2 separate regions of the Homo sapiens genome follow, and region 2 is linked to region 1. The links come from fine-mapping of genetic effects on gene expression. A gene starts in region 1. The other region holds a variant in brackets. All regions are shown on one strand. Distances are from middle to middle. Region 1 holds the start of DENND1B (DENN domain containing 1B). Region 2 overlaps DENND1B (DENN domain containing 1B).

Evidence for each region. PIP is the estimated chance that this variant, and not a neighbour inherited with it, causes the effect.
Region 2: its variant is the best candidate, but not a certain one, in a credible set for the expression of DENND1B in cerebellar hemisphere (GTEx, PIP 0.54).

The regions. Positions count from the first base shown.
Region 1 is chr1:197,773,215-197,778,414 of GRCh38, reverse strand. DENND1B (DENN domain containing 1B) reads left to right here and starts at 2,935. Exons shown (of 23, transcript NM_001195215.2): 1 at 2,935-3,276. The coding sequence starts at 3,260. RefSeq lists an enhancer at 1,718-1,767 and silencers at 2,142-2,436, 2,728-2,927, 3,078-3,587.
Region 2 is chr1:197,738,130-197,743,329 of GRCh38, reverse strand. All of the region lies in intron 2 of DENND1B (DENN domain containing 1B), which reads left to right. Among named protein-coding and RNA genes, the nearest start is that of DENND1B, 35 kb to the left of the region's middle. The variant A/G (reference allele first, on the strand shown) is at 2,214.

The sequences.
Region 1 (5,200 bases):
GCATGAGCCACTGCGCCCAGCCTAAATTTATCAACAGTTTTAATACATGCAAATTGTCTAGGGGTTTGATGTAAGAGCTAAAGATGATCAGACTAGATTAAAAATCAAGACTAAAAATTTTAGATAAATTTGAAACATGATGGTTTAGAAAGTTTGAATGTAAAAGGATGAAAAGAGATATCCTAACATCAGACAAATACTATTCAGAAGAAAACTGTTTAGAATCTAAGGCAAAAGTACGATTGGAGGTAAAGAAAGTAACAACATAATGATGAATGGTTGTATTTATTAGGTAGATATAGAAATTATAAACTGATGTGTATATTATTACACAGCCCCAAACTGTGTAAGGTAGAACCTGAAAGAACTATAGGCTGAAATAGAAAAATCTACCATCATGTTGGGATATTTAAACTCATCTCTCCCATTAATTGAATTATGTCAAGCAGATGCAAATTCAGTAATAGAAGATGTCAACAACACAATCATCGTATTTGATCATGGACATATATTTAGAACACTGTACCCCAAAGCTGCAGAATATATATTCTTTACAAACCACATACAACATTTAAGTCTTGAAACATTTAAAAAATTAACTAAATTAATTAATTAATAAGAAATTAATTAATAAATAAAGACCATGTTCTTTGACAACAATACAGACTATGTTCTTTGACTGGTATGGTCCTGAAAACTGTTAATATTAATTGTCGAGTAGGAAATATCATTGCTGAAATATGATCTTGGGAAGATTTAAGACTAATTTGAAGGTTTGCCCTTTGTACACTTCTCTATCAGTCATATGGGAAGTTCTATATGAAATGAGTATTACTAAAGTTATACCATCGATTTCATTAAAGCTATTACCAAGGTAAGTGTATGATATTTGTTTTCTAATTTTTTAACACCTCATGCATGTAGATCATGTACACCTATGTTCCTATCCCTTTTATTTCAGTAATAACAGAACAGATAAATCTCTTCATTATGGTCAGCCTAAAAGCTCACTTAAAAAGATTTGCTTTGGGATGCGAATGTGTAGTATTTCCCTCGATGTACTTAACATAAATGGAATGAAGAACAATTTTATACTGTTCAAGGGTATGACTGTCATTTAAAATAAAATCCCAACAATGGATGAGGAAAACAATTGTATTATTATCTCCTCACACCAAATTAAAAAGTCCTCAATATGGTCACCCCAAGTAGGGTTCCTTTCTTTGGAAATAATTAATTATAATGAAAGGAGAAGTTTGAGAAATTCAGTAACAGTTGGGGCAGAAGTGGCTTTTAGCTTACGAATTTTTTTTTTCAAGGCTTTGGAGTATGGTCACTTATGCAGAAAAATCTTTATTTGGGAAAAGAAAACTTATGTAGTATAGTTTGCCTAATTGTGAAACTGAAATTCACAGAATAATTTCTCAAAAGATAATACAAATTTGTAGCACCTGTTTTACTTGAACATCACACTGCTCATGTGATGTACAAGTAATAATTCCCATTTTACAAATGTAGGAACCGAGAAACTGAAGTGTCTCACCCCGAGTCAAGCTATGACAACACTTTATGATAAACACATTTTTTTTTTGTTTGTTTGTTTCCCAGTTATGGCCCGTCCTCATTTTTTACTAACAGGCCCATGGCTATACAATATTTCTGATCCTGTTGACCAAGTAGTACCCAATTTTGGCAAGAAAGTTTAAGGTTATATAACTGAGTGCAACTTCAGGTTCTCTGACTCTTGAGTTTTTTAATTCTTAAGACTCCTTTTCTGACTTTTATGTCTTATGACTCACACTACATTCATACCACATTTGGTTTCCTCTCATCATCTTAACTTCTGCATGAATAAAGTCTGAAGTAACCACCTTTTGGAAGAAACACTGTGGCTATGTGTCAAGGGTGGCAGTGTTAGCTGGGAGAAGGCCTTTCCCAGAAGATCTCTGTGTAAGAGCCTGGCCTTCCACAGTCATTTGAATGTCCATCATAAGACTTTTCTACCTGTCTTCTCAGTAGATCCTAAATATGAGACAGCAGAGGAGGGAGACAGGCAATATGAGGTAGAAGTAAATAATCAGCATCAGATAGACCTGGTGTGAACTCCAGCTTTGCCATTACTCCCTGGTTTCTTCATCTGTAAAATGCTGATGAAAGTATCTATCACACACCTATGACAAGTACTGGGTGAGAGTGCACATAACCTGCTTCACATGTGCTTTAGGGCTGTGTAAATCAGTCCCTCCCACGCTTATTCAGTGGTGCCCTCTCTGAACTCGCCTAAACTGCCAGACTATGAGGCCTGCGACTATGTACATGTGTTCAAAAGTTAGTCCTTGGTTATCACTGCAGTCTGTGGTATAGGAATGTCTGCCTCCCACATGCGCAGACAAGTGGGGCACTACCATTTGGCTACTTGACAGGGCTATTTAGCAGGTGCACATGTCTGAACATTCCTGAATCAGGAGGGGGTAGCTCTGGATTTCAGAGAGCTGTAAGCAGGCCACAGCTGGAGTGACGCAAGAGCCAGGGGCATCAACTTGAGCTCTGAATTTGTAGTATGAAATGAAAGGAACCCAAGTCCGTGTGTATGTGTGTGGAAAACACTGCAGGTCGAGGTACTTTTCCAGGTACTTCGCCCTTTGTGGGGTTGCAGCCCCGACGCCCTGGAATCTGGACTGGACCCAGAAAGGAAGCCGGTTTGGTTCATGCTGAGGACACAGGGGGCACCTTGCCTTTCTGGCTAGGTGGCAAAGCGGTACGTGGGCCATCCCAGCAGGCACTAGCGCTCCCCCTGCACCCTCTGGCCGCCCGGGCGCGGGGACCTGGCCCCCGCCTCCTCCACAGTCTCCGACTTGCGAGCCGCACGGCCCAGGTGAAGCCGCTGGGCGCGTCCCCGCGCGCCCCTTCCCCCTCCCGGCGACTTCCTGATTTGCAAGAAGGTGCAGGAGCCGCAGCGGGCGGCCCCGGTCGCAGGAACTGAGAGGCCTCAGCTTTGGTGGCGGCTACCGGCGGAGACGGGGGCGGCGGCCACGCCACCGCTGCTGTCACAGAAAGGCTCTGGTGGGTGGGGTGGGAGGCGGGGAAGTGCCGGGGGCGCAGCCGACATGGGCCCGCCGCCACGGCTGCTGTGAGCAGCCTCTTTCCCTGTGTGGCCGCCGGCGTGGGCGGGGACGGCGCGACCCTCGCGCGGCCGGGCTGCGGGCTTCCAGGCCAGCGCGCGGGGGCCGGACGGACAGCCCCACACCGACATGTAACCATGGACTGCAGGACCAAGTGAGTGGGGGGGCCCGGGCGCGTCGGGGGCGGGCGTCCCTCGGCGGCCCCTCCCAGGCCAGCTCGGCTCCTCCGCGCCTCCGCGCTCAACCGGCTCCCCGGGCGGCCGAGGTTGGCCGGGCGGGCTGGGGGTGCGGTCCGGCCCCCAAGCCTCTGGCCGGCCGGCGGGACGGCGCTAGGCCGCAAAGCCTGCCCGCCCTGCGTCCCCGGCCCTCCGTGGTTGGCGCGGCTCCTCCCGGAGAGGCCACTAGCGCCTTGTCGACGCCCGCCTTTCGGGGGACAGGGGAGGCCGGGCGGCCCCTGACACCGCCGCTGAGGGGTTCTCGTGCTTCCCCCGAGTGTGTCAGATGTGACTCTCCTGGGGCTGCCTGTGTGCGTGTGGTGTCCGGGAGGGAGTCAGCGTTGAGGTTAAGAGGTTATTATTCCGAGTGCTCTCTGAGCATTAAATATAACCGGTGTTTTCTTAAGTCCGTTTGTTACTTTTGTCTTGGATGTTTTCTTATGATTCTGCTTATAAAATTAGATTGGTCTCTGGTGTTTCTTTATGCAGCAACTGTAGATGCATGGTTCTTGCAAAACGGTATCCAATTAGAGGGTACTTTTATGTGTGTGCTAAAGTATTTATCAACGACTACTTTGCTCAGGAGATTAGGTAAAAAGCAATTTTAATAACGGTGGTGATTTTGTTTCTAGGTATCTTAGAGGCATGAGTTTTATATTTTTCTTCTGAAACTTAACTTTGGAAAGAATTCCTTTTTACTTCGCTTACCCACCCTTTACTATCTCCTTCTCAAAAAGTTTAAAATAATGCCATGTATATTTGTATTATTGTGAAAGGCCGTTTGAATTTCACAGAAGTAAAACTGAGTCAATATTTAACTTTTACACCTAAGAGAAATTCTAAAGAATATTAGGGAAAGAGGGAAATTATGTAATAGAATTATTTTCTTCAGTGTGTTTGACATCATGGTGGGCAGGGTAAGTGAGTAAAAATAGTATGCTTCTTGACATTAATTGTTTTAAGAGGGAGGAAGTCATCTGAGCCCAGATTATTCCCATTGAAACAAGTTAATAGCGGAAAGGCTAAAAAAATGTATATTTGCATGTTAATTTATATGTCTTGTCACTTCCTATGTTTCCAGATTCATATCTTATAAGAAAAGCTTCCAAAAAAAGAAATGCTTTTTTTTAAAGTCAGAGCTGGCATTCGTTTCTTGAAGGAAGTACATATTAAATACAGCCAATGTACAAAGGCACTAAGGTCTTGTTAGCAGGAATAACTGAGATATTAACACATTGGCCGTTGTGGTAACAGACTTAATCTTTTACCTTATGATGGAACGAGAGATTTAAACAGCAATGTTATGAAGAAAAAGTGTCTCAGTATATTTCAGTTCACTTTTTGAAATTTAACCAATGTTGCTTTGAAATTTTGCAAATATGGCAAGTTAGTAAAAAAGTCAATAACTTCTGAATTAAGCAAAGTAAACTTACAGTTTCTAGTGGGAAAATCTAACATGGAAGCAGATGGCTGGTTTCTCCAAAGATAATGGATAAAAAGAAGGCTTTTTATGTTGCTAGCCTTAGAGCTATGAATAGTTTGCTACTTTAAATATGCATAAGTACAGTAAATACATTTTAAGAAAAGTATATGCAACGTATCACATTCATGGAGCATTATCAATGTTTTATGGTGATCTAGAACTTGGCAGGTGGAACCATGTATTCATCATTTACACTTATATTGCAAGTCCTTTGGAGACAGCCTGAGAACCTGTGTCAAACTCTGTTGGCAGGGTATAATGACACTTAGGGACACTCTGGCTTTTAAATTTGATCCAATAAGATAAAACCAATACTTTGCATTTTTGTAGCACTTAGTACTTAATGAAGTACTTGCACATATGTTATTTGATTTATAATC
Region 2 (5,200 bases), 35 kb after region 1:
GCACTAGGAAACCACAAAATTTGTGTGACTTGCTTTATTGTGATACTCATTTTATTGAGTTGATCTGGAACTGAACCTGCAATATCTTCAAGGTATATCTGTATTTCTGTCTTCCAAGGCTATAAGGTAATGTGCGCTCTGCTTGGGATGGAGACTGTTTTCTAAGGGTGTTTGATTTAATCTTGTTAATATCATGTTAATAACTTAAAACTTTGTTAATGATTACTTCCCTTGTCAGTCAGTCATCCTGGAAAAGATAGTCTGGAATAAAACCCAGTCATCTATCTGGGCTCTAAAGAAGTGAAGTGAAGTGAGAGACCCCTGGAATTGTCTCCTAACAGTGTGACCTTTCTGAGGTGTCTCAGTTGAATTCCTCACATGTCCATGGTTTTATCTGCTTGTTCTGTCTCTTGGTTCTATGTGACCACCAGAATCTCCATTCAGCTATTCACTGCCAGACATTGTCAAGAGTGTCACCCTGCACATATGCAACCTAGTGTTTGGCCAGAGACTTAATATGACCCTTATACAGATTTCTGATGCTCCTTGTATTTGATATTATCTTCCACAAATTTTGCTTCATCTCCAGACTTTATTCTCTTTTTCCGCTGCTCAGAAAGACTGTAGTTTTTTGTGTGCTACAGTTCTGAAAGTGCCTTCAGACAGAAAGCCAGGGAGATTGTAGTGCTTTTTTTCCCAGAGACCACAGTCTTGCTTTTCCTGTTGCTCAACTTTTAAAAATATTTGTTTCAAATATTTTGTACAGTTTTACTTTATTTTACATTGTTTATAGTGGGCCAGCTGGTTTGTGCCTGTTACTGCCTCATGACCAAAAGTGAAGTCTCCTATCACTTTAATTTGCATTATTTATGAATATACAGTATTATGCCAGCTAGACTGCAAGATTGGTAAAGTCAGAGATGTTATCTTTTCTTCTTTTAAAAATTATTTAGAGTATTATATAAGTGGGTACTCAGTAAATGTGTCTTGTTCCACAAAGCACACAGTAGAAATATGAGACTAAAGTATAAAAATTCTGTCCCTTGATATTATTGTTATGGTAATGATGAGAATTAGGATGTTATATGACAGATTAGTTTGTGGTTATTTACCTCTAGGTAAACATATGCCTACAGTTGATAACATAAAGCATTTTATGAACTGAGTTTTTGAAAGAAAAAATTACTAAAGAAATTAGATTGCTATGTTAGATGGTATCGACCAAGACTTGAAATAGTGCCATTGTATTATATTTAACATTTCTCCTTGTAATGTAAATTTGTGTACTAATTTACGGATTGAAAGGGATTTTACATATATTATTTTAAATTAATTTTGATTTTCTCAGCAACTCTCTATGTTAGGTTCAGTAGCTATCCTCATTTTATTGAGCAAATTAAAGCTCAGTGAAGTTCTTCCATACTTAAGATTCCAAAGTTATAAAGTGGAAGAGCTGAGACTGCAAATCGAATCTCTAAATGAAGTTTAATGTTCTTTCTGCCTTTCTGCATACCATAGGTGTGGGTTGCCACGTTTATTTTAGTTCTTTTTTTTCTTTTTGAGTGTATGTAGTTTATGCCCATTTTATTCATTCTGTGTATAGGATTATGAAACTGAAATTTTAAATTCTTTACCTGGTGAGATTGTATAGATACCAATGTTTTAAGTTTTGTGCCTGTTAAATATTTGAAACTACTTTTAGAAGTTTTATTAAATAGTAAATCTTTGGTAATGGCATAAAAGGTATGTTTTTGTGTTACTTTATAATTACTTTAAATTGTCAATTTGATAATTAGGTTCAAACGATTGTGCAGAAATGTGTTAAAGATTGTGTATTGACATTCTCACATTAGGCTTGTTCTACTTTGAAGATTAATATTCTAACATTAGAATTTTAAAAGTATATTTGTAGTTTAAAACTGCTTTAATGATTATTTGCTCTATAAATATGCATAAATAAGGATGGCATCATTGTAATCGCTTTAAACCCTTTTTTGGGTAATACATCCTTAGTTGGGTTGAGTTGGAAGTGATGATCTTTGGAATATGCACATGAATTAATTGGTTACTCTATCTTGGGATATGTCAGAAGTACTACTGCTTCAGTGAGAGGACTCTGGCAGGAGATGTTATTTTTTACCAGCCAGCGGTGTTTATCTTGATTTGAAGGAAGCAAGCTTTATCAACATAGAGGATAATGATTTACTTGTCTT[A/G]TCCTTTCTCTTTGTAGCCTAGAGAAATTCCAGAAAATAGTCTTTTTTTCTTTTTTAGGAAGAAAATATAGTCTTCATATGAAAAGCTTTGTGTGCTTTTCTGATCAAAATACAGAAGGATTTTTATCTTTTGATCTACTAAATTTACTTATCAACATAGGTGTTAGCTTTGCTTTTCACTCCTTCCTTCAAAATTGTAGGACAGAAATTTGGAAGTCAGGAAAGCAAGTGAATGTGACAAATGCTTATTTATCTTGCAAAAGTGCTTCATAAGTATAGTCTTTTCTTCAGCTTGTCCTTCATACCATTGATAAACTGGACTTTAAAGAACTTATTAATGAAGGTGGCAATTTAGTTCTGCCTGAACCAACAACTAGTTATATGATCTTGCATAAATCATTTTTCCTTTCTTGACTCAAGTTCCTTCAGGTAAACAAAAGCTATAGACTATCCAAAAGCCCCTTGTAATTTAAACATTCTGTCATTTTAATTGTATTATTGTTTAGTTCTTCAACTACATTATCAACTCACTGAAGCAAGGATTTCATCTTCCTTTTGATAGTTTTCAAAATATATTGTGTAGCATATTCGATACAGTAATAGAAATTTGTCTACAACCTCAATTCTCAAACCTTGACTTTCTGAGACTCAGTCTTCCCCATATAGGGATCTCTTGCTCATAATTCCTTTTTTATTCATCCCTCTGCCTTTTCAAATCATTCAAATAAAAGACTTGCCAGGGACCCACAAGGCTCCATATAACTGGCTCAAATCCCCCTTGTTTACATTTCTAACCTCATCCTTTCCCACTTTTCTCCCTTGCTCTCTTAACTGCAGCCACACTGGCTTCTTGCTATCCCTGGAACAACATCAAGCATGCTCCTTCAAGGGTTTGCATTTTTTGTTTACTTCTAATACACTTTCCCAAGATATCTGCACAAGTAATTTCTTTACCTTTTTCAAGTTTTTGCTCATTGTCAGTGAGTCTCACTTTAACCAACTTAACAGAATTAAAATCGCACTCTCCTTCCTTTTGCGCTCATAATTAGGTTATATGCCTGCCCAGCCCCAAATCAAACACAAGTTCAGGGCTGTAGTGATTGTCTTTGCTGATGCAAAATTATATTTGATAGTGCAAAATTTTCATAGGGTAACTGAAAGGAACTGTTAAGAATATCTTAGCACATTACATATTCTAATTTAGAGGTAAAGGTCTGATTTCTTAGAAATTGGTGGAAGCATTTTAAGACTCAATTATGTTTTATTAAGATGAAATCATTTGCTTATTTTCCATCTGTATATCTTCTTTGGTGAAATGTCTGTTCAGCTCTTTCTCTTATATTTTCTTTATTGGGTTGGTTTCTTATTACTGAGTTTTGAAAGATTTTAATATATCCAGGATACAATGACTTTGTTGGATTTGCATTTTTTTCTCCCATCTGTATTTTGTCTTTTCATGCTTTTAACTAACATTGTCTTTCACAGAGAATAGTCCTTTCTTTTGATCAGTTTATCAGTTTTGTTTTTATTTTCATTTAGAGTTCATTTAGATTTTCATTTCCTTTTGATTTCTTCTTTGACCGTTGGGTTATTTAGAAGTATGTTATTTAAGTTACAAATATTTGGGGATTTTCCTGTGATGTTTCTGTTATATTTTGATAATGTAATTCCAGAGAATATCATGGTATGGCTTGAATCCTTTTAAATCAGTTAGGACTTGCTTTATGGTGCATTATATGATTTCTTCTCGTATATGTCCCATATGCACTTAAGGTTTTGTTTTAGATTACAGTTAAGTTATTTGGAAACAGTTTGAACATTTGAGGCTTGCTTTTAAGCTTTGGTAGGTGAAACCAGAGTCATCTTCAGTCCAGTGCTGATTTTGTCCCACTGCTAAGGTGTTACCCTCTGAGTACTGTACAGGATACTCTTGTTGATTATGAGGTTTTCCCACTCTGGGTGGTGTGAATGTCAGCTGATCCTGGGATTTCCCCCCCATTTCTTTTGGGTGATTCTTTCCTCAGTGTCTGGTAGTTTCCTCATATGTGTGCACTGATCATCAGCACTAAAGTCTTGGGTGGGTTGGTGGTGAACCTTCTGCAGCTCTCCAGAGCTCTATTCCTGTGCAGCTTCGTCTCTGTTCTCTTTGTGGAGTCTAGATGCTTTGGCCTTCCAACCTCATCTCAGGAAGACCACTGGGCTCTGCCTGGGTTTCTCCCACCTTGTGCCACATCCTGGAAACTCCAGATATTAAGACCAATTGTAAGGCTTACCTTGTTTGTTTTATCTCTGTCAGGGATCACTGTCCTGCATTTACTAATGTCTGAAAATTGTTTAATGTATTTTTTTAGATTTTTAGTTGTTAGAGAGAGAGCAAATACAGTTTGTACTTTCTCTTGGCTGGAAGCAGATGTCCTGTTTATGGATGTAAAAGTGCTGCTTTAACATTCTGCATCTATGGTTAGAAGAAAAGCTATGGTAACTAAGTACATGGGTAAATAATGTTTGGGAATATAGTTACCATGGAAGTTCTGAGGATCTTCTGTCATCTTTCTGCCAAAAAGTGATTCTGCATCAGCATCTTCCATGTTGTGTTTCACAGTTAATAACCCAAGTCTTCTATGAGAAAGAAACTGGCCAGATTAGGTCATGTGTTTGACTTATCAGCTCTGGCCTGAGGTCACATTCACCAATTGTGGATGCAACTACTGAAAACCCACCCTGGGTATAAGATGTAGTTCCCAGAAACGAGGGAATTGTTGTGACCTGGCTGTCATTCTCTATGTGGATTTAATGTTGATATTTTTTGGCTTTGAAAGGAAAATACTTCTATGTCTAAATGAGAAAAATAGCACCTTAAATTCAAAATTCAGCATTGGTTCAAAATCATTTGTCATGAAAGCTTCTTTTCCAGTTATAATATTAGATACTCCCCTTTGTCCTGTTATATAACAGAGGGTACTCATGCATGCTAATTCATACTGGAT